Linked DNA regions of Homo sapiens. The protein of the gene in region 1 interacts with the protein of each later gene in a pairwise test. Each region holds a gene or a part of one and is shown in the gene's direction. Other genes may lie near its edges. The genes, in order: TMEM88, ZDHHC22, C2CD2L and TMEM50B.

What was found.
Region 2: the proteins of TMEM88 (region 1) and ZDHHC22 interact in binary tests that used the Homo sapiens proteins (3 or more experiments, as listed by UniProt).
Region 3: the proteins of TMEM88 (region 1) and C2CD2L interact in binary tests that used the Homo sapiens proteins (3 or more experiments, as listed by UniProt).
Region 4: the proteins of TMEM88 (region 1) and TMEM50B interact in binary tests that used the Homo sapiens proteins (3 or more experiments, as listed by UniProt).

What each region holds. Positions count from the first base shown.
Region 1 is NC_000017.11:7,850,506-7,856,599, forward strand, and holds TMEM88 (transmembrane protein 88), read left to right. Parts: upstream 1-4,560; 5' UTR 4,561-4,569; coding exon 4,570-4,779; intron 4,780-4,897; coding exon of another isoform or gene 4,898-4,939; coding exon 4,940-5,209; 3' UTR 5,210-5,265; coding exon of another isoform or gene 5,266-5,436; 3' UTR 5,437-5,594; downstream 5,595-6,094. Other genes in the region: KDM6B (lysine-specific demethylase 6B), read left to right, coding at 516-721, 825-889, 973-1,044, 1,143-1,291, 1,446-1,560, 1,644-1,831, 1,990-2,131, 2,495-2,621 and 1 more. UniProt on the Homo sapiens protein: Inhibits the Wnt/beta-catenin signaling pathway. Crucial for heart development and acts downstream of GATA factors in the pre-cardiac mesoderm to specify lineage commitment of cardiomyocyte development.
Region 2 is NC_000014.9:77,131,780-77,138,805, reverse strand, and holds part of ZDHHC22 (palmitoyltransferase ZDHHC22), read left to right. Parts: intron 1-4,857; coding exon 4,858-5,123; 3' UTR 5,124-7,026. UniProt on the Homo sapiens protein: Palmitoyltransferase that could catalyze the addition of palmitate onto various protein substrates and be involved in a variety of cellular processes. Catalyzes the palmitoylation of KCNMA1, regulating localization of KCNMA1 to the plasma membrane.
Region 3 is NC_000011.10:119,102,810-119,110,346, forward strand, and holds the start of C2CD2L (phospholipid transfer protein C2CD2L), read left to right. Parts: upstream 1-4,534; 5' UTR 4,535-4,932; coding exon 4,933-5,286; intron 5,287-5,303; exon of another isoform or gene 5,304-6,545; intron 6,546-7,294; coding exon 7,295-7,390; intron 7,391-7,537.
Region 4 is NC_000021.9:33,462,961-33,469,986, reverse strand, and holds part of TMEM50B (transmembrane protein 50B), read left to right. Parts: intron 1-1,060; 5' UTR 1,061-1,101; coding exon 1,102-1,200; intron 1,201-2,864; coding exon 2,865-2,977; intron 2,978-4,577; coding exon 4,578-4,645; intron 4,646-7,026.

The sequences.
Region 1 (6,094 bases):
AAAATTAGAGAAAGCTGTATAGAAATACAAAGGTCAATCTTGTCTCCTTTATACCTGTATGTTCTCCCTTCCCCACACTGAGTTATTTGAAGCACATTTCAGGCTTTCACTTGACTGAATCTTTAATCTTTAATTGGATCCAATGGTAACTCAAAGAAGCTGCTGTTTTGACTAGACTCCAAATGGGGAAAAAAGAAGCTGCCATTCATTGAGCACCTACTATGTGTCTGTCAGGTGCGGTGCACATGGCCACGCACACATCTGGGAACACTGGTCTAGGGGCTGAGTCCTTGAGCAGCTGCAGGAGAAAGAGGGCTGGTGAGGATGCAGATAGAGGCCAGCACTCCCAGCTTCCTGTGGGGCTAGGGCTCCTGCCTATTTCTTCTGGGCTGAGCTCTGCTAAACCTATGACCACCCTGTCAGAGCCAGAGGAGTAGGAAGGGAAAGGGTCGATTGGGTCCTCGGTCCCTATCCTCTGCCTCTGCCCCGACACCCTGCTCGGCCCTCCCTTCCAGACTTGGGCCTCTTCTCCACCAAGACCCTGGTGGAAGCGAGTGGCGAACACACCGTGGAAGTTCGCACCCAGGTGCAGCAGCCCTCAGATGAGAACTGGGATCTGACAGGCACTCGGCAGATCTGGCCTTGTGAGAGCTCCCGTTCCCACACCACCATTGCCAAGTACGCACAGTACCAGGCCTCATCCTTCCAGGAGTCTCTGCAGGTGAGATGAGAACGTGGCCAGAGGCAGGTCCTGGGACGGGGCTGCGGTGGGAGGGCTCTCGAAAGGTCTCTGACCCAGGCCTGCCTACCCTCTGGCTGAACAGGAGGAGAAGGAGAGTGAGGATGAGGAGTCAGAGGAGCCAGACAGCACCACTGGAACCCCTCCTAGGTACTGTGCAGGTGTGCCCCTTCTGTTCCTGCTTCCTTCCCCTCCCTCTGCTCTCCACCAACCTGTGCTCTTCGCCCCAGCAGCAGCGCACCAGACCCGAAGAACCATCACATCATCAAGTTTGGCACCAACATCGACTTGTCTGATGCTAAGCGGTCAGTGGGGCTGAGGCCAGGGAAGTTGGGGCAGGAGTGCTGCTAGGACCTCGTGGCGGGGGCGGGGTGTAGCCTCTCGTCGCACTTCCGCACCGCAGGTGGAAGCCCCAGCTGCAGGAGCTGCTGAAGCTGCCCGCCTTCATGCGGGTAACATCCACGGGCAACATGCTGAGCCACGTGGGCCACACCATCCTGGGCATGAACACGGTGCAGCTGTACATGAAGGTGCCCGGCAGCCGAACGCCAGGTGCGCTCCACGCCTGTGCGCGCTGATGCTGGAAGCGCGAGAGGAGGGGCTGGCGGCGGCGCTCAGCCGTCAGCCAATGAGGGCAGAGGGCGGGGCTATCGGGGATCGCAGTTCCGACCTGGCCAGCCATGCCGTTCTCTGTCGACCCCTGCAGGCCACCAGGAGAATAACAACTTCTGCTCCGTCAACATCAACATTGGCCCAGGCGACTGCGAGTGGTTCGCGGTGCACGAGCACTACTGGGAGACCATCAGCGCTTTCTGTGATCGGTGCGTGCCGTCCTGCGCAAGTCAGACTGCCGCGTCCCCGCCCTCGGTCCCCAGTTCCCACCTGACCTGTGGCCACCCCGCAGGCACGGCGTGGACTACTTGACGGGTTCCTGGTGGCCAATCCTGGATGATCTCTATGCATCCAATATTCCTGTGTACCGCTTCGTGCAGCGACCCGGAGACCTCGTGTGGATTAATGCGGGGACTGTGCACTGGGTGCAGGCCACCGGCTGGTGCAACAACATTGCCTGGAACGTGGGGCCCCTCACCGGTGAGAGGGTGGGGCAGGTGTTGGCGTGGTGTGGCGCCTCAGCGGCAAGGGCCTGGGAGGCTGGGGCTTGGAGAGCCGCCAGCAGTGAGGGAAGGGGCTTGGGCCTAGGTGTCTGGGGGCTGTTTGAGAGTCCTGTTGTGATCGCCTTTGGCCCGCAGCCTATCAGTACCAGCTGGCCCTGGAACGATACGAGTGGAATGAGGTGAAGAACGTCAAATCCATCGTGCCCATGATTCACGTGTCATGGAACGTGGCTCGCACGGTCAAAATCAGCGACCCCGACTTGTTCAAGATGATCAAGTGAGGACCCTATTTGGGTGGGAGCCCACCTCCACTGACTGGTCCCTTTTCTTGTTCTTCCTGTCTGACTCCACCCCATTTTTACCTCTCTCCATCCTTGTCTGCCTGTGCCCCGAGTGTTACTGTGTTGGGGAGGCTAACTAGGTCCTTGCTGTCATGACCTTTTCTAGTGGTCCAAATAGACAAAAGCCACAGGAAACTTCGCCTATAACAGATGCCCAGGACAGAGGATGTGACCTAGACATGAAGCGGGGAGGCCCCTAGGGGAGGGCCCTGGGGCTGCCCACCCCTCTGCCCTTGCTCCAGCCCTGCCTCAGGCCTCCTCCTTGCCGGTGGTCTCAACACAACCCCACTGCTCCCCAGGTTCTGCCTGCTGCAGTCCATGAAGCACTGCCAGGTGCAACGCGAGAGCCTGGTGCGGGCAGGGAAGAAAATCGCTTACCAGGGCCGTGTCAAGGACGAGCCAGCCTACTACTGCAACGAGTGCGATGTGAGTGGGCCGGCTCTGCTGCTCTCCCTGAGTGTCCACAGTGGCCCTCCCTCCCCCTGACTGCACTGTCCTCCCTGCCCCAGGTGGAGGTGTTTAACATCCTGTTCGTGACAAGTGAGAATGGCAGCCGCAACACGTACCTGGTACACTGCGAGGGCTGTGCCCGGCGCCGCAGCGCAGGCCTGCAGGGCGTGGTGGTGCTGGAGCAGTACCGCACTGAGGAGCTGGCTCAGGCCTACGACGCCTTCACGCTGGTGAGGGCCCGGCGGGCGCGCGGGCAGCGGAGGAGGGCACTGGGGCAGGCTGCAGGGACGGGCTTCGGGAGCCCGGCCGCGCCTTTCCCTGAGCCCCCGCCGGCTTTCTCCCCCCAGGCCCCAGCCAGCACGTCGCGATGAGGCCGGACGCCCCGCCCGCCTGCCTGCCCGCGCAAGGCGCCGCGGGGCCACCAGCACATGCCTGGGCTGGACCTAGGTCCCGCCTGTGGCCGAGAAGGGGGTCGGGCCCAGCCCTTCCACCCCATTGGCAGCTCCCCTCACTTAATTTATTAAGAAAAACTTTTTTTTTTTTTTTAGCAAATATGAGGAAAAAAGGAAAAAAAATGGGAGACGGGGGAGGGGGCTGGCAGCCCCTCGCCCACCAGCGCCTCCCCTCACCGACTTTGGCCTTTTTAGCAACAGACACAAGGACCAGGCTCCGGCGGCGGCGGGGGTCACATACGGGTTCCCTCACCCTGCCAGCCGCCCGCCCGCCCGGCGCAGATGCACGCGGCTCGTGTATGTACATAGACGTTACGGCAGCCGAGGTTTTTAATGAGATTCTTTCTATGGGCTTTACCCCTCCCCCGGAACCTCCTTTTTTACTTCCAATGCTAGCTGTGACCCCTGTACATGTCTCTTTATTCACTTGGTTATGATTTGTATTTTTTGTTCTTTTCTTGTTTTTTTGTTTTTAATTTATAACAGTCCCACTCACCTCTATTTATTCATTTTTGGGAAAACCCGACCTCCCACACCCCCAAGCCATCCTGCCCGCCCCTCCAGGGACCGCCCGTCGCCGGGCTCTCCCCGCGCCCCAGTGTGTGTCCGGGCCCGGCCCGACCGTCTCCACCCGTCCGCCCGCGGCTCCAGCCGGGTTCTCATGGTGCTCAAACCCGCTCCCCTCCCCTACGTCCTGCACTTTCTCGGACCAGTCCCCCCACTCCCGACCCGACCCCAGCCCCACCTGAGGGTGAGCAACTCCTGTACTGTAGGGGAAGAAGTGGGAACTGAAATGGTATTTTGTAAAAAAAATAAATAAAATAAAAAAATTAAAGGTTTTAAAGAAAGAACTATGAGGAAAAGGAACCCCGTCCTTCCCAGCCCCGGCCAACTTTAAAAAACACAGACCTTCACCCCCACCCCCTTTTCTTTTTAAGTGTGAAACAACCCAGGGCCAGGGCCTCACTGGGGCAGGGACACCCCGGGGTGAGTTTCTCTGGGGCTTTATTTTCGTTTTGTTGGTTGTTTTTTCTCCACGCTGGGGCTGCGGAGGGGTGGGGGGTTTACAGTCCCGCACCCTCGCACTGCACTGTCTCTCTGCCCCAGGGGCAGAGGGGTCTTCCCAACCCTACCCCTATTTTCGGTGATTTTTGTGTGAGAATATTAATATTAAAAATAAACGGAGAAAAAAAATCCTGTTTCGCTAACGGCTGGTGGTAGCAGGTTGAGTACCGGGAGGGCTGCAAGACCGTGATTGATGGGGAGGACTGCGCAGACCCTGGCGAGGGTGAGCCCCTCCCCGGAGGCGCCTGTGGAATGTCCAGGGCTCTGGTCCGCTCCTCGGGATGGGGGGTGCCTAATCCTAGAGCCGCATTCCAGGATAAGGGGGGTGGGGAGAGGCTGGGCCGGGGGAGGGGCAGGAAAGAGGGCTATAAGGGCAGCGGCCCAGGCGGGCGGGATCCAGGCGGGCCATGGCGGATGTCCCCGGGGCACAGCGAGCGGTTCCTGGTGACGGCCCAGAGCCCCGGGACCCCCTGGACTGTTGGGCCTGCGCTGTTCTTGTAACAGCCCAGAATCTGCTGGTGGCTGCCTTCAATCTTCTCCTGCTGGTGCTGGTGCTAGGGACCATCTTGCTACCCGCTGTCACCATGCTGGGCTTCGGCTTCCTCTGCCACTCTCAGGTGAGCGTGCGCCCCGGGGTGTGCGTGTGAGTGTGAGTGTTGGTGTGTGGTGATGCTGGCGGTGGGGTCTATGGGCCACAACTTCAACCCGCCTGGGCTGTTTCCACCCCGTGCACAGTATCGCCTGGTCGGCTTGGGCCTGACGCCTCTTCTCCCACAGTTCCTGCGCTCCCAGGCACCCCCTTGCACCGCGCACCTGCGGGACCCCGGTTTCACGGCCCTACTGGTCACCGGATTCCTGCTCCTCGTGCCGCTGCTCGTGCTTGCTCTGGCCAGCTACCGCCGCCTCTGCCTGCGCCTCCGCCTAGCCGATTGCCTCGTGCCCTACAGCCGAGCCCTTTATCGGCGTCGGCGCGCCCCGCAGCCGCGGCAAATCCGGGCCTCACCAGGGTCCCAGGCCGTTCCCACATCAGGAAAGGTCTGGGTCTAATGACCCTCGAGTCAAGAACAACCCTGACGGCTGCCCTCCCTCTTATTCGGCCCAAGGACTTGAAGCCCGGCATCTTCCGACCTGCCCTGCCCCCACCCCTGCCTGAGCGGAGTCCTAGCATCCCCTTGGGAGCAGCAGCGTCAGTGGACCCAGTGCTGAGAAAAGCCCCCACATCCCGGAAAACCCACTTTCCTTTCACGACCCACATCTCAATCCTGAACATCTAGGCTGGAACCTGCACACCTCCCCCTCAGCTCCGTCGTGAATGGGACAACAATCTCGTGCCCTCGTTTTATGGTGCAGCTTCTCTAGTATTTCTGGGGCTGGGGGGCGGGGCTGGAGGGGAAGGAGTGTCCACGCATCAATAAAGATTTAACGAACTGAACGCGCTCTGCGAACAGAGGCGTGGCACAAGTACTATCACCCCTGCCCTGTGCCGAGGAACAGGAAACATGTGCCAGGGCTACAAATGAGCAGAGAGGAGCATCCTTGAGCCCCCTGGCCTTATCGCTTTTGTCCGTTCTTCCTGGCCAGACCTCAGAGATCTGTTCCTGACCCCAGGCACCTCCCCCTCAATAGAGTGGAGGGGCCCAGCCTCGGCCGCCTGCCGCTGCTCCCCTTGGGGACCTGAGCCCGTTCTCTGACCCCAGCTTAGAGGAACTCGGTGTTGCCAGGCCGGGGTGGGAAACAATGGGCCTTCCGGAGCAGGATGACACCCCCTCCCGCCACAATTCTGGAGCAGCAGCCGTGGGAGGGAAGATGCAGGGGCCCACCCTGGGGCCTGTTGGTCCGTCATTCAGCCCTGCCCCCCATCTCTACCCCTGAACTTGAGAGAACCTTTGGCACCCCTGGACATCTTGGTTGGGAGAGGAGGGTTGAGGGTGC
Region 2 (7,026 bases), on another chromosome or scaffold:
GCTATGACATTCCTCTGCCTGGTCCCCAGTTCTGCTTACATGTCACCCAAGGACTCTGCTCTCCAGAGGTCTCACCAACCAATTGCAGTAATATTGAACTTGTTGCCAGCCCAGCCCAGCAGGAGGCTAAGCTCTGTCCTCCTGCCTATTATGTTTGACCTCACCAGCCTGTTCTCCAGCCTGCTGATGGCTCAGAGCAGAGGGAACGTGGGTGGGAGAGGCAGGTTTTTTGTTTTTTTTTTTTAAGACAGAGTCTCACTCCATCACACAGGCTGAAGCGCAGTGGTGAAAGCAATCTCTGCTTACTGTAACCTCTACCTCCCAGGTTCAAGTGATTCTCTTGCCTCAACCTCCCGAGTAGCTGGGATTACAGGTGCGTGCCACCACGCCACACTAATTTTTGTATTTTTAGTAGAGATGGTGTTTTACTGTGTTGGCCAGGCGGGCCTTGAACTCTTGACCTAAAGTGATCCGCCCACCTTGGCCTCCCAAAGTGCTGGGATTTACAGATGTGAGCCACTGCGCCTGGCTGAGGACTGCACTTTAACTAGTATGCACCAAGGACCACTACCTGATACCTGGCCCTAGAAGGACTCAGCTCCTGGTGGCAGTTCTTACCACTTTATTTGGCCTTGAGACTGGCTCCTACTGCGTTTCCTTCCACTTCCTCCCTACCCTGGCCTTTGACTCTGAATGGCTTAGCTTCCACAATCAGTAGTGTCTACGTGCTTGAGTGTGCATGTATAGCATTGCTATCTCCATTTCTCAGATGATGAAACCGAGACTCAGACGGGACTAAGTGGCTTGCCCAGTGTCTTCCTGCTACTGAGTGGCAGTCTCTGGTCTGCCTCTCAGGTCCTTAATCCACAGCTCTTCTGCAGTGGCTCAGGGAATAGAACATGCTTCCTCACCTGTTGGCCTTCTAGGAGCAAAGAAAGGCAGAGGGCAGCTACTTCCTCTGAAAGCCCAAGATTGTTTTGAGGTGCCTGGGCTGAACATTCATAAAAATTCTGCTCTACTCTGGGGGAAGCCATCATTTCAGTCTTTGTGGTGGCTACAGCCCAGTTCTTCCCAGGCATAGAACTATCATGCCATTTGGCAGTGGGAACACAGAGATACAGGGGGGACCCAGCTACGGGGGCTGCCTTCAGGGCTGGTGGCTGAGCTGGGTCCAGAACTCACAGCTTTCAGGCCTTCTGGATCCCAGCACTGGCACAGGAGGCTGCCGGGACCAAAATAACCAGGACGGGGGAGGGTGGGTGGGTGGGCTAGTGGGTGGAGTGTGAGCACAGGCAGGTGGAGGGATGAAGAGAGCCAACAAGCCTGCTTATACTTTCTTTTCCAAGTAGTTTCGCCAACCGTAAAAATGGATGGTTCCAGAAGGAAGACCTTGAAATGGTTTGATTTGAGATAAATCTGGGCTTGAGGCCTGTCCATATGTGCTAGGTTTGATCTGATGGGAGAACAGAGCCAGTGAGTGCCCACCTTGGGGCCCAGACTCCTGTGCCAGCATGAGTTCCAGTGTCTTTCACTTCCTCACCATATCCACTGGAAACAGGCGAGCAAGACTTCTTACCTCCAACTCTCCTATCTCATCTTTTGTGACCTTTCATCTTTCCTCTTGAGGACCTTCCTTTCTTTCCCTCCCATGACATACACCCCACCTGTTTGGCTTTCCCTTTCCCATTCCTCTTGTTCCCCAACCCTCAATCCGAACAGTTGGTAGCACCCTCTCTCATCTGCACAGGAGGACAGGTGGACAGAAAAGAGTAAGAAGCATGGGTTGTTTAATAGAAATTGAGTTCAAGATCAGCCTGGGCAAGATGGTGAGACTCCGTTGCTACAAAAATAAAAAATAAATAAATACACTAGCCAGGCATAGTGGCATGTGCCTGTTTTCCCAGCTACTCAGGAGGCTGAGGTGAGAGAATTGCTTGAGCCCAAGAGTTTGAGGCTGCAGTGAGCTATGATCATGCCACTGCACTCTATCCAGCCTGGGCTACAGAGCAAGACCCTGTCTCAAGAAAAAAAGAAAGAAAGAAATTGAGCTGTCCCCAACTGTGGTACAGATCTGAGTCAGATCTGTCACCAGAGCATGGATGGCTGTGAGTTTGGGCCTTGAGAGCTAAAAGTGGGAGGGGTCTTCTAGTGTGAAGGTGGCGGCCAACCACAGGCCCTCAGCTGATCCAGAGAGGGAGGCGGCTAGCTAGTTAGGTTTCAGAAGTTACCCTTTCTTTTGGCTTTGTGGGACCAGTACAGGTTGCTGTGTCACCTCTCTGAACCTTATTCTTATCTGGGAAATGGAGATGCCACCATCTGACCTGTATCTTGGCATTTGGGTAAGTACACCAGCATGATGGGTGCTACCAGAAAGTCCAGTAAGAGGGAAAGGGGACTAATGTTCATTGAGCACCTATTATGTACCACCCACTATGCATGTCACATTTCACCCATTCCTCTTGACAAGTCCATATTATCATGTCCATTTTTAAGGCTCAGAAACCAAAGACTCAGCAAGGTTAAGTTGCACCAACACCACACAGCTGGTACGATTCCAAACCAAGATTTGGAGTTGGGGCTTCTAGCCTCCAAAGCTCATACTCTTTCCACCCACCATACTGCCTCTTGGGGGCTGCCTCTCTGAAGCTGCTTCTCGAATGAGCCACTTTGGAAGGGAGGCAGCTACTTGTCCTTGGATGTATTAAAAAGTATGCTGGGTGATTATTTGTCAAAGGTGTTATAGATGCCTGTTGGGAGGAAGGGGCAGGGGAGATTGACTGATGTGTCCTTTTAGGCTCATTAGGAAAATTCTGTGATTTTTAAAAAGAGGCAGAACTATTATTAAATAGTTAAGAGGAGCTGAAGCAGCCAGGCTAGGTAACTTCAAACACTTTTAGAGAAAGCAGGTCCCCAGAATAGCCTTTTGTAGCTGCTGCATGGGGCCAAGAAAAGGCCGCAAGTTCTTTTTCTCATGCCTTGATTTAGTGCCAGGAAAAAACCCTGTGGGAAATGGCTTCCATCCACCCAGGCTTGTTCCTGGGGCAGTGTTGCAAGGCAGGCCCAAGCTTGACAGCTCTGATGTTCTCACATCCCAGCTTGAGGGCCACCTTTGCCTGTCAGCATTCCTCACGCCAAAGAGCACCATGGACCTGGGATCCTCCATCCCCCACATGGCTGCCCAAGCTAATCTGTGCCGACATGGAAGAAGTGGGTCAGGGGATGGCACAGCCCAATGTGAGCCCTGTCCCACTGCTGCCCCTGTGCCAGTGGAGGGGCTGCTGTAAATGGCAGCTGGGCCTATCTGTCCCCAGCTTTGTAAAAAAAAAAAAAAATAATACAGCTATCCAAGCTCCTAGGGATGAGGACAAGAGGAGGCTGCTAATGAGAGAATCTAAATCAGATCCACATCCTCCATGGCTGCTGAGTCCACCACTGCTCATACTGGACAAGTGTTGAAAGCCCAGTTGACAGGGCTTTGGAAATTGGAGGTTGGAGAGACTTGGGAAGAGGTGGGCTGGGGCAAGAGAAGGCTAGGGAAAGGGCAAAATATGGTTGAGATTTTCAAGGGCAGAATAGGTTGTAAGGTGGAGTCCTTAGAGGAGGTGCCCCCCCCCCACCAGAGGAGGTGATAGGGTTGCCCTACAGGGAACCAAAGGCTAAGGAATACTTTCGAATTAACTCCAGGGTCCAGTGCCCTGGCTGCTGGGTAGGTCAAGGTAAGTGTCTTTGCCACAGCTGCCAAAGTTGCAGCCCAGCCAGGACTCTAAGCCCTGAAAAGGAGAAGGAAAAAGCTTGATAGTTTCAGGAGTTGAACTCATTTTGGATGTAGTCTCCTGCTCTGTAAAATGACCCTCTGCTGGGAGCACCGCTCTGAGTGTGAACCGGAATGCTGACCACTCTGTACATCATTTTCTTGAAACATGCAGCTGTATGAAATCGTTAGTGTTATTATACCCATTGTACAGATGAACGAGCTGCAACTGAGAGGTTGGGACACTTGTGCCAGTCCACACAGCTGGGAGATTCAAACCTAGCATGGACCAGCCACCCAAACTCTGAGGAAGAGTGTGGGAGCTCTTACTCAGTGGTTATTTCAAACCAGTAATAGGAAGTGCTTGGTTTAGAGGGATTCTGGGGAGATCCTGCCCCACGACACAGGGCTGATGACCTTGGGGGCCTCTTCTAGCAAGCTTTGATTGACAGAACCAGCTCTGGTGGAATGCGGTGGTGGCCACACTGTCCTCTTGTTAACATTAATGACTGAATTATTCTCTACGTTGGTGTTCTGGGCTGCTCTTCAGACTAAGCTCGTGACTTATTCTTCCCAGATCTCCATCATGCTGTCATTTTCCTGAGTCCTCTCAACCAGCGTTCCCAGAACAGTAGGGAGAAGGTGCTGTGGACTAGACAGCTGCCCAGGCACCTGCTCCCTCTTTAGGGTCCCCAGCTCACCCCTCTCTCCTCCTGAGCAAAACCCCTTCACCCTGCTTCTAGCCCAAAAGGAGAAAGCAGAGAGAGACAGGCATCTCCTACTCTACAGAAATGTTATCAGCGGCCAGGTGCTGCCCCAGGAGCTGAGGGCTGTCCTTGCTAAGCTCATCAAACTTAGCTCTCTTCTCTGCCATGTCTCCAGTCTTCCCCTCTTGCCTCAGGTGCCATCCGCGCCAAGAAAAAGTTAGGGCAGCTGGTTCTTCCTTCCTCTCCCTCACTGCAGCTGCAGCGCTGAGGTTGCTACAAAATGTAGCGTCAATCTCATTAATCTCCCTCCCTCCCGGTGGAAAGCCTGCCTAGATCGCAGTTATGCCGGTGGCCTGGGTGTAAAGCGGCTCTGGTGTTTCCCCTCCCCGTGCCCTGCAGGAGCTGTCCTGGGTTCTGAAATGTTCGTCATCCTCATGCTCTACCTCTGGTTCGCCATCGGCCTGGCCTGCGCCGGCTTCTGCTGCCACCAGCTGCTGTTGATCCTCCGCGGGCAGACCCGCCACCAGGTGCGGAAGGGGGTGGCAGTGAGGGCCCGGCCCTGGCGCAAGAACTTACAAGAGGTCTTCGGAAAGAGGTGGCTGCTGGGCCTGCTGGTCCCCATGTTCAATGTCGGAAGTGAGAGCTCCAAGCAGCAGGATAAGTAGTAGACACTCCCGTCATTTATCTCTCTGTCTCTGTCTTGACTCCTCCTGAGCATAAAACCATGGCAGCCTTGTCTCCACCCATGACTCACTACAACCTTGTGCTGGTAAGGTCCTAGCATCTTCCCCTCACCTTCCACCCATGAGAACAGCGTGAGCTGGTGGATCATGACAAGGAGGAAAAATGTCCCCCCAGGCATTTCTAGGCTCCTCACGAGCCAGCCAGGTGGCTGCTAGCTGTTAGGCTGCCTCTGCTTTCTTTCCGTCCCCTTGGGATCCCTGCTTTCCCCCTCTTCCTGGCTCATCCATTCTCCACCGTGTCTCATTCATCACTGCTGTCTGCTAGAGCCCTTCCTCTCAGCCCCCATGTTGGGAGAGGGGAGTGGATTCTTGCTGCTGGTATGAGACTCCCTGGGACCTAGAGGCTGGCAAATGTTTAAAATCACCACGTGTAAGAGGCAGCCAAGTCAGCTCTGCCAACTGCTAGGGGAGTTGGGAAAGAGTGGGTGTGTGTCCGCATCCCCTCTGTAGGAAAAAGAACTTAGTAGCTTGCTGCTCCCTCACCACCCCCCACCAGGTTCAAGACCCTTTTTCTGGGAGACAGCAATCAATGGCCTGCTTTTTCCAAATGTTATTCCCTGTCCACCCTGCCCCATCTGGCCGGCCCAGCCCAGTCCAGGACCTGGCTGGATGCTTCCTGTCCCTGGAACTCTTCCAGCCTTTCTACTTGATCTCCAGCCCCCAGGTCTTTGCCAGATGATGGGAAGGCAAGGAAGAAGGGACAGGGAAAGATAATTACTGATAAATGAAGGGGATATTCGACTGTATAACCATATGGAAGTGTGTGTGTGTGTGTGTGTGTGTGTGTGAGAGAGAGAGAGAGAGAGATGGGTGGTGGTGAGAAGTGTTGTTAGAAACATATAGGAATAATGCCTAGGGGAAAGGGAGAAGTGAGAGGGACAATTGGGTTCATTTATGCCCTATACAAAGGGCATTCCAGCAGCTGAAACTCTTCAATGTTTGAATGGCTGCCTGTGAAGGTAGTGAGTGCCCCATCACTGGAGGTATTCCAGCAGAGTCTAGGCAGTCGTCTGCCAGGCATGCTGTGGAAGGGATTTCTGTACAGGGTCATTCTAGGTGAGCTTACACATTCCTTCCAACCCCAAGGTTCTGATGTCCTGGTTGTGATTGCTGGACCCAGAGGCAAGATCTGCAGAGATGCCTGTGAGATATTTGCTTTCCTAGAGGGGAGTGTGGGCATGGGAGGGGTCTGAAAATCAGGACCCAACCCAGCCACTGAAGAGAGAGTCTCTGCAGAGACAGGGCTACCTGGGTGGTTGAGGGGACTGACATTTGAGGACAGGGAGATGGAGCAGTGTCATTGTCAGTGGCAGGGCATGGGGGGCAGTGGTGAGCTAAGGCTGAGGAGTGGAGATGACCAGAATATAAGGGTGCAATTCCCAGACCATCCCTGCGCATCTGACTGACTCCGGTGGAGGCACTGCTGTGTGTTTTCTGAAACCTAGAGGACCAGACCTCTGGGGCATATAAGGGAGTAGGGACAACACAAGTGCCCCCTCCTGACTGGGTCCCAAAGCCAATATGACATCCATGCAGGCAGCAGTGCTGAATCCATGCCCTGCAATGTCCAACCGCCAACTGCAGTGACCCGCTGATAGCTGCGCAACAGCCTGGGTTCTTGAGCAGAGATTGGGAGGACTTTACTGTGGTTCTGCCTTCACACCCCCTAGAGAGCTAATGTAGTATTGGCTCCACCTGCTCACATTTCTCCCTCCCATACTCATTCCTTCACTCATCCATCCTACGTATATTTATTGAGTGCCAACTACGTTCCCAGCCTCTTCCAGGCACTGGCAATGCAGTGATGAACAGGATGACAAGATTC
Region 3 (7,537 bases), on another chromosome or scaffold:
TTGCTGTGCATTTTGCTTGGCCTGTTCCCCTGCAAACAACAATTCACCAGCTTTTTTTTTTTTTTTTTTTTTTTTTTTTTGAGACAGAGTTTCGCTCTTGTTGCCCAGGCTGGAGTGCAATGGCGCGATCTCGGCTCACCGAAACCTCCACCTCCCAGGTTCAAGAGATTCTCCTGCCTCAGCCTCCCGAGTAGCTGGGATTACAGGCAGTAGCTGGAATTACAGGCATGCGCCACCACGCCCGGCTAATTTTGTATTTTTAGTAGAGACGGGATTTCCCTATGTTGGTCAGGCTGGTTTGGGACTCCCGACCTCAGGTGATCTGCCCGCCTTGGCCTCCCAAAATGCTGGGAGTACAGGCGTGAGCCACCACGCCCAGCCAGTTCACCAGCATCTTTATTACCTTTCATTCCCCGACAGGCTCTTAGGCGGCAAATGATTTCCATTTGTCAGAGAGGAAGTCACCACCAGTGAGTTAGGGAAAGGACTCCAATAGCCTAGCGCTTTGTCCACTCTTCCCTCTATGGCATGTTCCAGGAGTCAGGGTCATGTTGACCGTTTTTAAGCCGAAGATAGTTTCTTCTTTCCCTCAAAATCAGATGTGAGGCCGGGCGCAGTGGCTAACGTCTGTAATCCCAGCACTTTGGTAGGCGAAGGTGGGTGGCTCACTTGAGGTCAGGAGTTCGAGACCAGCCTGGCCAACACGGTGAAACCCCGTCTCTACTGAAAATACAAAAATTAGCCGGGTGTGGTGGCACATGCCTGTAATCTCAGCTACTCAGGAGGCTGAGGCAGGAGGATCGCTTGAACCTGGGATGAGGAGGTTGCAGTGAGCCGCGATCATGCCACTGCATCCCAGCCTGGGCAACAGAGGGGAAACTGTCTCAAAACAAACAAACAAACAAACTAAATCAGATGTGAAATGGCTTTTCTACTTGAAAATGGCTCTAATTAACAACAACAAAAACCCAGATATGTATAAAATACATAAATTTTCGTAATTTACTTGCTAGTATTCCACCAGATTTTCAGTACTTATCCCACTGCTATTATTTTTCTGTGTGTGTTGTGTGTATGCACGTGTGCCCCTTTTAAACTAGAAACTCCCGGGAGGCAAGTGTTTTCTCTTCCACAGGGTGTCCCCATGGGGCTAGGAACACAGACATCTGTGTACAAGGAAGGCATCATCACACATAATGAGGCTGAGGCTGAAAGGAGGACTGAGGGCAATAGGTGCATATGGAGGGAGCAATTAGTTGTGACCAGAGTAAGTGGTCTTGAGGAAGAGAAGTATCATTTCAGTAGATTATAAGAGTAGAAGGACCTTTCACAGGCAGCGACAGTGAGACACCAGAAGCTGGTGGAAAGGAGGAGCTTGTGGGATCCCAGAGGAGGCAGCATTCAGTTATCTTGTTGATGACGAGTATACTGAGACTCCCTGGAGGTCTGAGAGCCAGTCTGTATCTATTTCCTTTTTTATTAGGAGGCCAATCCTAATAAATCTTCCTTCCCAGCCTGGTATTGGGAAGCTTTATCTCTTTCTTCTCCAGAGATCATTAGCCCTCCCTACCACCACCCTCCTGGGGAGGGTGGAAGGATGTAATCAAAGACAAGAGAGACTAAGGATTCATCATCCACATATACATGTTACTATCAGAAAATGGTTACTAAGATACTTGTCAGATAATCTGAGTATTTTTGTTCCCATGATGATAAAGTCCCAGTTGATGATCAGACTAATCAGAAGGAGAAACAAACACATGACTTTTGGCTTCACTTGAAATTGTGTGCCTTCCCTGGTAAAAGTTCAAAGCGTTTTCCTGAATGCTGAAGCCGGCCCTAGGATTCACAGACCAGTTGACTTGTCAGTGGCCCTGGACTGAGCAGACAGTGTTTGAGATGCACACCTCTTCTAAGTAGCCTTGAGTGGCTCCCAATGAGCAAGGCCAATCCACTGAATGTGATTGCTAGACAAAGCCTGTCCCAAAAATGTTTCATAGTGCCACAAAGACAATGAGACCCCTCTGGATAGTCTGGGGCTGTGATACTTGCAGGACTCTATCTGTGGCTCTGTCCAGTCAGCTGAATCACTCTTTTTCCTTTTCCTCCCACCTCTCCCCTCTTAGTCTAGAAAAAAGTTGTTAATTAAAAGCAAGCCCCAGGATTTCCCATTCCACTGGTATGGCATGAATGATATTTCAAAAGACAGAAATGGCATAGAAATTCTCAAAGCATACTTGAGTATTTTCTGTTAGACTTCTTAAAATTACAAAGTTTGTTAATCCCTACTATGTGCATAGGAAGCTCTTCAGTACTGTGGAGGATACAAACTAATATAATTGCAGTTGCTTGCCCCCAGGGAGTCTACTTCAGCATATTTGGAGCATCTTGGTTGAATTTGAGGGAAAAGAGATGACTAAGACATGGTTCCCACCCCTAGGCAGCTTCCTGATGCATGGAAAAAGCAGACATATAAACAATCAGCTAGACTCTAAGGCAGAATGTAAGTGCTAGAGGTCTAAGTAATGGAAGAAAGAAGGAGGACTAGGCTGGGCACAGTGGCTCTCACCTGTAATCCCAGCACTTTGGGAGGCCGAGGCGGGAGGATCACCTGAGGTCAGGAGTTCGAGATCAGCCTGGCCAACATGGTGAAACCCTGTCTCTACTAAAAATAACAAAAATTAGCCAGGCATGATGGCGCATGCCTATAGTCCCAACTACTTGGTAGGCTGAGGCAGGAGAATCACTCAAACCTGGGAGGTGGAGGTTGCAGTGAGCCAAGATCTCGCTACTGCACCCCAGCCTGGGCAACAGTGACTTTCTGTCTCAAGAAAAGAGAAAAAAAAAAAAAAAAAGAGGGAGGACTAACTAGGGAGACTCATGTAACTAGGTAGACTCACAGTTCAGATACTGAATTGTGAAGCAGTATCTGGCAGCATAGGACCAAGCACTCAGTGGAGAAGTTGAGGGAATAAATCAAAGAAGTCAGAGAATGGAGATCACTAGGGGGTCTGAGGGTTCCTGAAGGATTCTTGGGGGAAGAGGGTCTTCATAGGGAAAGCTTCTACCTGGACAACTTCCTGCATAACCTGCTCCCCTAAACCCTAGCTGCTCTTCCCACTGACAGCTTCCTCCTGCATCCCTGGTTCTGGCCCTGAGTTCTCTCCTCCCTTGATTTCATGTCTTCTCCTCCCTTTGAGATTAGAAACCCAGACTCTAGGAATCTCCACTGATTTGGCAGTCCAGTGACAATGCATGGGCAGGGCCACAGGAGGTTACCTCATTCACCCCCACCTCTCCCCATCATTCCTTACAGGGAAATCTAGGGAGGCCCAGGCTACCCCACCACCTCCTCTGGCTCAGACAAACCTGTTGCTGACCTGTCAGTTTCTGTCTAGCCCTGCCATCCCACACTTCAGAAGGCATTGTTTATTCTCTTATTCTCATGTGCTCATTCCTCAGACAACTACTTGGGTTTGGGAGAAAGATACTTAACACCTTTCCATCCTACCTCTTTAAGAAAGGGACTGTGTGCCAAAGACCTTCCCACATGTATGAAGAAGGGGCTCTTGGGAGAATGTGAATTCCCCCAGGATTCCTTTGAATCCTTTTGCAGGTATTTCCTTCCCCTGTCCTCAGCAAGCATTGATGAGCCCCAGTCCTGTAGAGGTTGAATCAACTCCTTGAGTCTAGGAAAAGATGGCTTCTGAGGCCAGAGGTTGGGCAGTGTACCTACAGCACCATTTCTTGGGAGCTTGTTGGGATATCACATACTTAGAGTGGCAAGGTCTTGTGGCTGAATCTATTGATAGTCCAGTGCTACATTGCCAGCTCCCTTGTCATTACCACCCCCTCTACACGTGCTCCATAGGCAGGAGCTGTTACTATGGAAATACATTATTTTTAAAAACAGACACACAGCCTGGGCTTGGGAATCTCCAGAACAAACCTACACGAGCAAGGAGGTTAATGGGGCTGTTTCTGGGTCCAAGCTCCAAGAGGAAGGAGGGTGATGATGGTGGGGGGAATTCAAATTCGGTGTTCTACTCTCAACCTCTCCCAGCTTCAGGTTCTGCTTTCTCTCTGTTGACATCAGCTGGACCTCTGCCAGACACTTCTATCTGGGAGGGACGCTCTGCGTCTCCTTACCCTGGGCCTAGCTTCCCCCAGGAAATGGGAAGCTAGAAGTCGCTGAGTCTGGGGGTGTTGGGAGAAGGGGGCGGTGATTTCCACAGGGGTCACCTCCTTCTTAACCTCACAGGCGTCCGACCTGTGGAAATCTAACAAGCATAGGGGAAAGCAAAGGCAGCATCTTAGGTAAGTGAAGTTACTCTTGCCTTGAGCTGAGTGTGGGAGCACCGCGATTGCAAGATGGGGCGAGGTGATCAAAGATCCCGCCTATTTTCAACCCCGGAACCTCCTCCGCTCGCTGCTAGCCCTCCCGCCCTCCTCCAGCGAGGGAGCGCCAGGCTGTCCTGGCCCCGCCCGGCGCGGGTGCGGCTCCTTTAAGGGCGGGTGGGGGCGGGGCGCCGGCGGTGTTGTCAGTGTCAGCTCTGCGCACGCAGCCCTCCCGGAGCCGGTGCCGGCCCGCGAGCCCCAGCGTCTCTGCAGACCAGTCCCCTCCAGGGTCCGGCGGGGCCCGCGCGGTGGGAGGAGTCGGGCACTGGCCGGCGACTAACGGGTCCGACTGCTGACCAAGCTAGGAGAGACCCGGACCACGGAGACAGAGACCCCGGCATCGCGACCCCCGAGGACCTCCTCTCCTCGCCCTGTGGCACCCACTAGTCCTGGGCACTCAGCCGCGGAGAGCCCCCGACCCCGCGCGCCCAGCCCCGGGGGAGCCCACCTCCTCCCCGCGGCCCGCCCGGGCCATGCTCCCCCGGGGCAGCGGGTGAGCCCCAGCCGGGACCGGGATCGGAGCCCGCGCGGAGCATGGATCCGGGCTGGGGGCAGCGGGACGTGGGCTGGGCGGCCTTGCTGATCCTCTTCGCCGCCTCGCTGCTCACGGTGTTCGCCTGGCTGCTGCAATATGCCCGGGGCTTGTGGCTGGCGCGGGCCCGCGGGGACCGGGGCCCGGGACCCGCCTTAGCCGGGGAACCCGCGGGTTCCCTGCGGGAGCTGGGCGTGTGGCGCTCGCTGCTGCGGCTGCGGGCGACTCGGGCTGGCGCCGCCGAGGAGCCAGGAGTCCGGGGCCTCCTGGCGTCACTCTTCGCCTTCAAGTCTTTCCGGGAGAACTGGCAGCGGGCTTGGGTGCGAGCGCTGAACGAGCAGGCCTGCAGAAACGGGGTGAGTTGGACCAAGCGCTTGGGTGGTCCCTTCAGCCTTTCCTTCCAGGGGAGGGACTGACTGCTCGTGCTAGGAGGCCAGACGAGGGTGGGCATAAACTGGGGAACCCTATGGCTTCTCTTCCCCTCCCGGATCAGAGAAAAGGGTGCCGCTAAGGCTGGAGGTTGTAGAAATCCAACTGGGTCCCCAGACTTCCATTTCTGTGGGCAAGGTACTCTGGTTCCAAACCCATGCACAAGTTGCTGTTCTCATAGCAACGCTAATCCCTGTGCCTGAGGGCACTTCCGCCTTGCCTGGGTGCTGGTTGTGTTGGGGCATGGGAGACAGGTGCACCTGCAGAAGGAATTTGCCTGCTTCTCATGCCACCACACCCATTTAACATTTCATGCCCCAAATCCCTGGTGTGGTCAGGCAGATCCCCAAGGAGCCTGAATCACCCCCCTACCCGACAGTAATTTCACTGCTACAGTCAAACACATCCTTCTCCTCCATGCTGGCCTGTGGTTCACTGGGGGTTGGGGAGTGTTCAGGTGGAGAGCAGATTGACAGTGCCCCTACCAGTAGATGAGCTTGGAACTGCCCCTTGAGGGTCAGTCACAAACCAGTCCAGCCTACTTCCTCCCATTGCACCATGGGCATCTGGCCTCCCAGGAAGTGGGGCAGGAAGCGTGGTCATGAGATGGAGATAAGGTGGGAGGTAGAAGTCTCTCTTTTCTGGAGCTCCCTCCCATCCTGACCCAGCAATCTCTCCTTGCTCTCACAGTCCATCAGCTCCTTGCTCAGAGGGTTCTCTATTTCCAGCCACTATGAGTTTGGAGGCTTTACCTTACTAGTTCCCCAGATGCCGGAAACAGAAATGTCCACAAGAAATTGCTCTATTTACTCTGTCCAGCTGGCTGGCTAAAAGCCAGATGGCATCTGTCAGTTTACACCTTGAACCCACCTCTTCATCCAACTCTCCCTGTACCTTGTCCCTCGGTCAGAAGCAACTCCCCAGGATAGCTGACTCAACTGGACATTGGCCTCCCTTGCAGAGGGTGGGGAGATTGAGGTTTCAAGCATCCATCTCCCCATCTTCCTTGGCCTAGCCTTTGAATGAGACAGCTACCAGAGCAAAGGAGTTGGCTTCCCCTGGTTTGCCAAGCAAATGAACCCTATGGATTTGTTTCCTCCATCTCAAGACCCAAGGAAGAGTTGCCAGCCAATTCTGTGCCCCTTCCTCAATTCTGTGTCCGCACTGCTCTCCAGGTGGGGCTGCGGTAGGTTGCTTCCATTACTGTGGACGAATTAGGGAGCAGCTCTTTTGAGATCTAAGCAGCTTTCTGCTCTCTAATACCGTCCTGCTATCTGCCTTGAGGAATTAGCCAGGCCCCTGGACTCTTGGGTCCTCTGAGCTTGTATCTCTTCCCAGTCCCCCTGGTACGGATCCCCAAGGCCATGCTCATCTTCATCTCCAAGAATATGAAGCATCATACTCTTGAAGCCTCCACATCTTATTTATTTGGAAGAAGGCTTAGCTTCATTTCTGCAGCTCTTATCTTGAACAAGGTGGCTCTACCACCTTTACCGGGGCTTAGCCCTTTCCCTCTGCCCAGCTATTATATATAGGTGGCAACCAGCACCTTAACTTTTTTCTATGTAGGATTTTTTGTTTGTTTGTTATTTGTTTTTTTAGGGGGTAGGGTAGGGGATGAAAGGGATTGCAGGGAGAAGAAGAAGGAAGCTCTTGGTATTCCAGGAGGAAGCCAGGGTCTTCAGCTTAAGGTGATCTAGTCTCTGAGGTGGACTACCTCCCCATTGCTCAGTGGCTCCTAGCAGCTACAGGCCCCTGGAGAGGCAGGCCTTGAGGGGACTACCTCCTGTCTTAAAGCCCTGAGCCAAGGAGGGGCCAGAAGCCAGCCTGCAGCTGAGGCCTCCGCAGTGGCAGAGTCCAGCCAGCAACTGAGCAGGCCAACCCTGTGGGGGGCAGCTCCAGAGACCTGATCCAATGCCCACATTACTCCCTCAGAGCTCCATCCAAATCGCCTTTGAGGAGGTGCCCCAACTCCCACCCAGAGCCAGCATCAGTCATGTGACCTGCGTAGACCAATCTGAGCATACCATGGTAAGGGTCTGATGGGCACTGCCCTCTTTGGGGTCCAAGAAGGACTGACCCCAAGGGCTCCCTTTAGTCCAGAGGTTCTTAACCTGGAGTCTGTGAATGCCTTATGGATCTAAGGATTGGTTTCAGGAAGTCTGAGAATCCCATTGA
Region 4 (7,026 bases), on another chromosome or scaffold:
TCCAGTTATGTCTTACTGCGTTACAGATTAATGCCAAAACCCTGTGGCTTAAAACAGTCATTTTATTATGTTTATTAGATTTTATGGGTCAGGAATTTGGAAGGGGCATAGCCAGGATGATGTATCTCTGCTCCATATATCTGGTGCCTTACCTGGGAAGGCTCAAACTTTTGGGATGGTGCTATAGCTGGATAGCAGTTACCTAAAAGTGTCTTTACTCATGTCTGGCAGTTAATACTAGCTGTTAGCTGGGACCTCAACTGTAACTGTGGGTCAGAACACCTATAAATGGTCTCCTTACAGCATGGTAGCCCAAGCATTAGTGTTCCAGAGAACCAGGCAGATGCTCCATTGCCTTCTGTGACCTGATCTTGGAAGTGGCATGGAGAAGTTACATAGCATCACTTCCTCTACTCTACTGGTCTACTAGTCTTTATTGTTGACCCAAATTCAAAGGTAGGACATAAATCTACCTCTCAATGGAAGAAGTGTCAAATATTTTAGATATGTTTAATTTATTTCATTTATTTATTTATTTTTGGACAGAGTCTTGCTCTGTTGCCCAGGCTGGAGTGCAGTGGCATAATCTTGCACTGCAATCTCTGCCTTCCAGGTTCAAGCAATTCTTGTTCCTCAGCCTCCCGAGTAGCTGTGATTACAGGCATGTGCCACCACGCCCAGTTAATTTTTTGTATTTTTAGTAGAGACAAGGTTTCATAATATTGGCCAGGCTGGTCTCGAACTCCTGGCCTCAAGTGATCTGCCCACTTTGGCCTCCCAAAGTGCTGGAATTACAGGCGTGAACCACCTCGGCACCTAGCTCCTAGACATGGTTTAAAACCATAGTGCTCATTTATCAAATAGCAAGCTCCCCCTTGGGTCCTAGCGTAGTCCTATATACATCTCAATTAGGTACTTGTTGAAGTATTGAATTTTTCTTAACTATAGTAGAATAGGACCTAAAGTAAAGTTGTGTGTAAAGCTTTAAGAAAGGAGTAAGGTATTTTACTTTTAGAAAACATTTTCTTAGGTTGATTAGTTTTTGTCTTTCTGTTTGTAGGATACAGCATTTAATGAAAAATTTATGCTTAAGAAGTAAAAATGGCAGGCTTCCTAGATAATTTTCGTTGGCCAGAATGTGAATGTATTGACTGGAGTGAGAGAAGAAATGCTGTGGCATCTGTTGTCGCAGGTATATTGGTAAGTGAGAAAGACTGGTTGGTGACATGTATCCCTTACCTTTTGCCCTGGAAATTAATGCCGGTTCCTTTGAACTGAGAATGGCTTTCCAGAACTATTTATTTCACTGCTGTTTTGTATAGATGATTATCAGAGTTCTAGATACTATTGCCAAGCAGAATATGGTAGGCCCTGGATTCATTTTGACTTTGTAAATGTGTACTTAATATCTTTTCTTCAGTTCCAGTGATAATATAATTATTATAGGCAATAGCATTTTTAACTTACTGATACAACATATATGTAAGTACTTTAAGATCCTTAAAGGCTCAGAATTTGATGTAACCCAAAATTATTGTTGTGACTTATTGAAGGTCAGACAACAGTGACAGTACTCTGCAGATAATAGTAACAACCTTAGGCTCCATTGGAACTGAAGCCCTGCAGCGGCTCTAGGGAAGAAATACCATCTCTGTTTCCCCAGCTGCAACATCAGGGGAGCATCAGAGGAAGAGATTTGTGAAGGAAACTATTGTTTAATTTTCTTTCCATCATTTTTTAACTTTAATTGAAAATGACAGGCATAAAACAAAAGCAGAGAGAATGGTATAAAGATTCCATCACCTCCTTTATCCCATGTGTCTATCATCCAGCTTAAAAAAAAAACACCCCAAAATCAGGACCTATCTTGGTTTATAATTCCATCAACCACTCTCTGTCCGCACTTTTTTTTTTTTTTTTAAAGAGACGAGGTCTTGCTATGTTGTACAGCTACTAGAGTACAGTTGCTATTTACAGATGTGGTCGTAGTATACTACAGCTTCAAATTCATGGTCTCAAGCAATCTTCCTGCCTCAGTCTCCCAGGTAGCTGGGACTACAGGTTCATACTACCATTCCTGGCTCCCACAGCATTTTTTGGAAGCAAATTTCTTTATCTGTTTACATTTTAAAAATTCATCTCTTTCAATGTACAGTTCTACACCTAAAGTCCAATAGAAAAACAAAATGAAATGAAGCAGAGCAAGAACTAACGATAATTGTGAAGCAGTCTGCTCACTGCAGTCTCCGCCTCTGACTTCCCAGGTTCAAGCAATTCTTGTGCCTCAGCCTCCCAAGTAGCTAGGATTAGAGGCACATGCCACCATGCCCAGCTAATTTTTGTATTTATATTTGAATGTTTTTGAGACAGAGTCTCGTTCTTTCGTCCAGGCTGGAGTGCAGTGGCGTGATCTCAGCTCATTGCAGCCTCCACCTCCTGGGTTTAAGCGATTCTCCTGCTTCAGCCTCCCAAGTAGCTGGGATTACAGGTGCCTGCCACCATGCCCAGCTAATTTTTGTACTTTTAGTAGAAACGAGGTTTCACCATGTTGACCAGACTGGTCTCAAACTCCTGACCTCAGGTGATTTGCGCGTGTTGGCCTCCCAAAGTGCTGGGATTACAGATGTCAGCACTGCGCCCGGCCTTGTATTTTTAGAAGAGATGAGGTTTTACCATGATGACCAGGCTTGAACTCCTGACCTCAAGTAATCCACCTGCCTTGGCCTCCCAAAGTGCTGGGATTACAGGCGTGAGCCTCTGTACCCAGCCCATTTATATGATCTGTAGGACAAAAGGAATGTTAAAAAGCAGGTATTGTGCTAGCAAGAGTTTTAATGTTTCAGTGACTTGGGCTGTGTTTTAAGTTTTTTACAGGCTGGTGGATAATGATTGATGCAGCTGTGGTGTATCCTAAGCCAGAACAGTTGAACCATGCCTTTCACACATGTGGTGTATTTTCCACATTGGCTTTCTTCATGTAAGTATGAAGATAATTCTCTATTCAAGGTGATTTTTCTAAAAATACTTTCCTGTTAATGTGCAGTGCTTTCTTGAATAACTTTTTAATTTATTTGATAGACTATTTTTTAACATGATACATACATAATTCCCATTTTATTACGATTTTTTTTAACCAAGAATGAGTGTTGGATTTGGTCATATATCTTTTTAGCACCTATAACAATTATCTTGTGATTTTTTTTTTTCCTCATATTTTTAAATCTGGTCAGTTACATATTTTGTCAGTTGCAAGATCTACTTTTTCGCATTTTAATACCTCTGAATATCAGGATGCATCTTACAGTCAGTGGTATCTTAGAATTATAATTGATAACATTTTTATTTCTTGTCAGTATTAAAAATTAATGGTGTATCTTAAAACTGATGGCTCTGAGATTTCATGAAACATGTTACGTTTCTGCATTTTTTTAGTAGTAAATCACCCGTAGGTGTTGTAGTACACTCAACTTTTACCTTGCAGTATTATTTTTATTTTTTTTAATGTGCTACTTGACTGTGTTTGCCAGTGTTTGAGGAAAAGGCAAGATTGGCCTCAAAAGAGATTTGTTTGTGGCTTTTGTTTTTATTAAATTATTTTTAAGTTTATGTTACCTCATTTCATAAAAAAGCTTGGAAGCTTTTTATGGATGTCTTTTAACAATTAAAAAATATTAAACATTAAGATTACATCATTTCCTTATACCATCAGGAGGTTTTTTTGTTTTTGAGACAGAGTCTTACTCTGTTGTTTGGGCTGGACCACACTGGTGTGATCTTGGCTCACTGCAACCTCTGCCTCCCGGGTTCAAGTGATTCCCTTGCCTCAGCCTCCCAAGTAGCTGGGATTACAGGTGCCTGCCACTACGCCCAGCTAATTTTTTGTATTTTTAGTAGAGACGGGGTTCCACCATGTTTGCCAGGCTGGTCTTGAACTCCTGACCTCGTGATTTGCCTGCTGTGGACTCTCAAAGTGCTGGGATTACAGGTGTGAGCCACTGCACCTGGCCAGGAGTTTTAAAAAGGTTATATTTTGGAAAATGGAACTACTTATATCCATTGTGGCTTCTAAAAAAAGGAAATTCCTGTTACTAATTAATGTACCTTGCTCTAACAAAAATGGAAGGGGAAGCTGAATAAAGTGGGCATATTATACATAAGCTACATTTTCTCTGAGCTTAAGAAATGGATCATAGAAAATCACTTGACTTTTAACACAAAGAGAAACTGTTTAACTCTTGATAATAATGAGAACCTTGAAGTGGGATAGCACTGAGTCATTCATGTATAAATGTGAAATAGACAAAGAATCCAGAAAACTGGTCCCTCTTGTATAATCTCTGGAGAGAAGTGATAGAAATCTCTTAAAATAAATGTGTTTTCTGGGTGTACTTTATGAAAATAAGACTAATGTAACATTTCTATCAACTAGCATTTTTATTAGGTTAAAAATATGTTAAATTATTCAGATACTGATTTTAGTTATGAAATAATCTGTTTTCCGTCTAAGTGTTATATAAATATTTGAGTATTTTAACAGCGAATACTGAAATTCATTTGATGATTTTGTGCCGTTCTAGGATAAATGCTGTATCCAATGCTCAGGTGAGAGGTGATAGCTATGAAAGCGGCTGTTTAGGAAGAACAGGTAAAGATACTTTGAGCTGTTAATGGGTGTTGACAAAACAGAAATTTGTCACCAGAAAAAAAGCCTCTCTTGTGAGTCTTTATTCAAGACTGGTAATGATTATATAGAATATTTTTTATTTGCTTTAAAACAAAGTTTTAGTGTTATTCAAATCCTTAAGAAAGTAAGTTATTGCTAGAAGTTACTGTTTTTGTCATGTTACACTGCCCATGATATAGATAAAAAATGTTGCTATTCAAATGGATCTTGGACTCCAGTGCTAATGATGGATTTATTATTATCCCAATTGTTGACCAATAATGTTACTTACAAGATGGCTGACTATGATTATTAACAGGAAAGTAATGAACACATTAGGGGATCAAACCTAGGACTACAGTGTCTTTACATTCACTTCTGATCACCTGAGTAGCCACCTACAGACTGCAACAAAATTGTTCAGTAGAAAGATGCTATTTGTCTACACATAAATTAGTTTTTATAGTTTGAATTCATTTGAATTGTTATCCAATTTTTGTTTTTTTTTTTTTTTTTTTTGAGACGGAGTTTAGCTCTTCTTTCCCAGGCTGGAGTGCAGTGGTGGGTTTTTGGCTCACCACAACCTCCACCCCCTGGGTTCAAGCAATTCTCCTGCCTCACCCTCCCGAGAGCTGGGATTTCAGGCATGCGCCACCATGCTTGGCTAATTTTGAAGTTTTAGTAGAGATGGGGTTTCTCCATGTTGATCACGCTGGTCTCGAACTCCCGACCTCAGGTGATCCACCCACCTTGGCCTCCCAAAGTGCTGGGATTACAGGAGTGAGCCACCGAGCCCGGCCCAATTGTGTTTTTTAAACATTTACGGCCGGGCGCAGTGGCTCACGCCTGTAATCCCAGCACTTTGGGAGGCTGAGACGGGTGGAACACCTAAGGTCAGGAGTTCGAGACCAGCCCTGCCAACATGGAGAAACCCCGTCTCTACTAAAAAATATACAAAATTAGCCAGGCGTGGTGACACACTTCTGTAGTCCCAGCTACTTGGGAGGCTGAGGCAAGAGAATCGCTTGAACCCGGGAGGCAGAGGTTGCGGTGAGCCGAGATCACCTCATTGGACTCCAGCCTGGGCAACAAGAGTGAAACTCCGTCTCAAAAAAAAAAAAAAAATTTACATTATAATATGAAGAAATTAAGGTACAGTGGGCTTACATAATGTGTCCAAAGTCACAGAGCAAGTAAGTGGTGGAGCCAGGATTGAACATGGACAGTCTGGCTCCAGAGCCCATGCTTTTAGCCACTATGCTGTGCTTGTTTCCCATCTAGAACCATTTGGTCACTTTGTCTGGTTTGGTATCACGTGTATATTTTTTCTTTTTGTCAGCTTAATTGAATATAATTTAAGTATAATAAAATTCACTAATGTATTTATTATTTTATTAATTTTTTTTGAGACGGAGTCTCACTCTGCCACCCAGGCTGGAGTGCAGTGGCATGATCTTGGCTCACTGCAGCCTCAACAGCCTGGGCTCGAGTGATCCTCCTGCCTCAGTTTCTCAAGTAGCTGTGATTATAGGCACATGCTGCTGTGCCCAGCTAATTTATTTATTTTTTGTAGAGACAGGGTTTTACCACGTTGTTCAGGCTGGTCTTGATCTCCTGGCCTCAAGCTATCCACCTGGCCTCAAGCTATCAGCCTCCCAAAGTGCTGGGATTGCAGGCATGAGCCACCACGCCTGGCCAGAATCCACCAATTTAAAGTGTACAATTTGATGAGCTTGATCAAATGTGTACAGTTACAGTTGTGTAACTACCACTACAATCATGATACAGAACATTTCCATTGCCCCAAAAAGTTCCCTCATACCCCTTTTTATAGTTAATACTCTTCCCCTCACCTCGTGGCCACTACTGATCTACTTTCTATGATGGTTGCTTTGCCTTTTCTATGATTTCATATAAATGGGATCATATAGTAAGTATCATAGCCTTTTAAACCAAATAAAGCAGCTTTGAAGAGCTTAGCTTTCTTTTCTACTTGATGTTTTATTTTTTAAATTTTGTATTTATTTTGTTTGAGACGGAGTCTCGCTCTGTCACCCAGACTGGAGTACAGTGGTGCGATCTCAGCTCATTGCATCCTCCGCCTCCCAGGCTCAAGCAATTCTTCTGCCTCAGCCTCCTGAGTAGCTGGGATTACAGGTGCCTGCCACCACGCCTGGCTAGTTTTTGTATTTTTGGTAGAAACTGGGTTTCACCATGTTGGCCAGGCTGTTCTCAAACTCCTGACCTCAGGTGATGCACCCGCCTTGGCCTCCCAAAGTGCTGGGATTACAGGCATGAACCACCATGCCCAGCCTTCTACCTGATGCTTTAAATGCTGATGTAGATTTTGTAACCTCACTTCT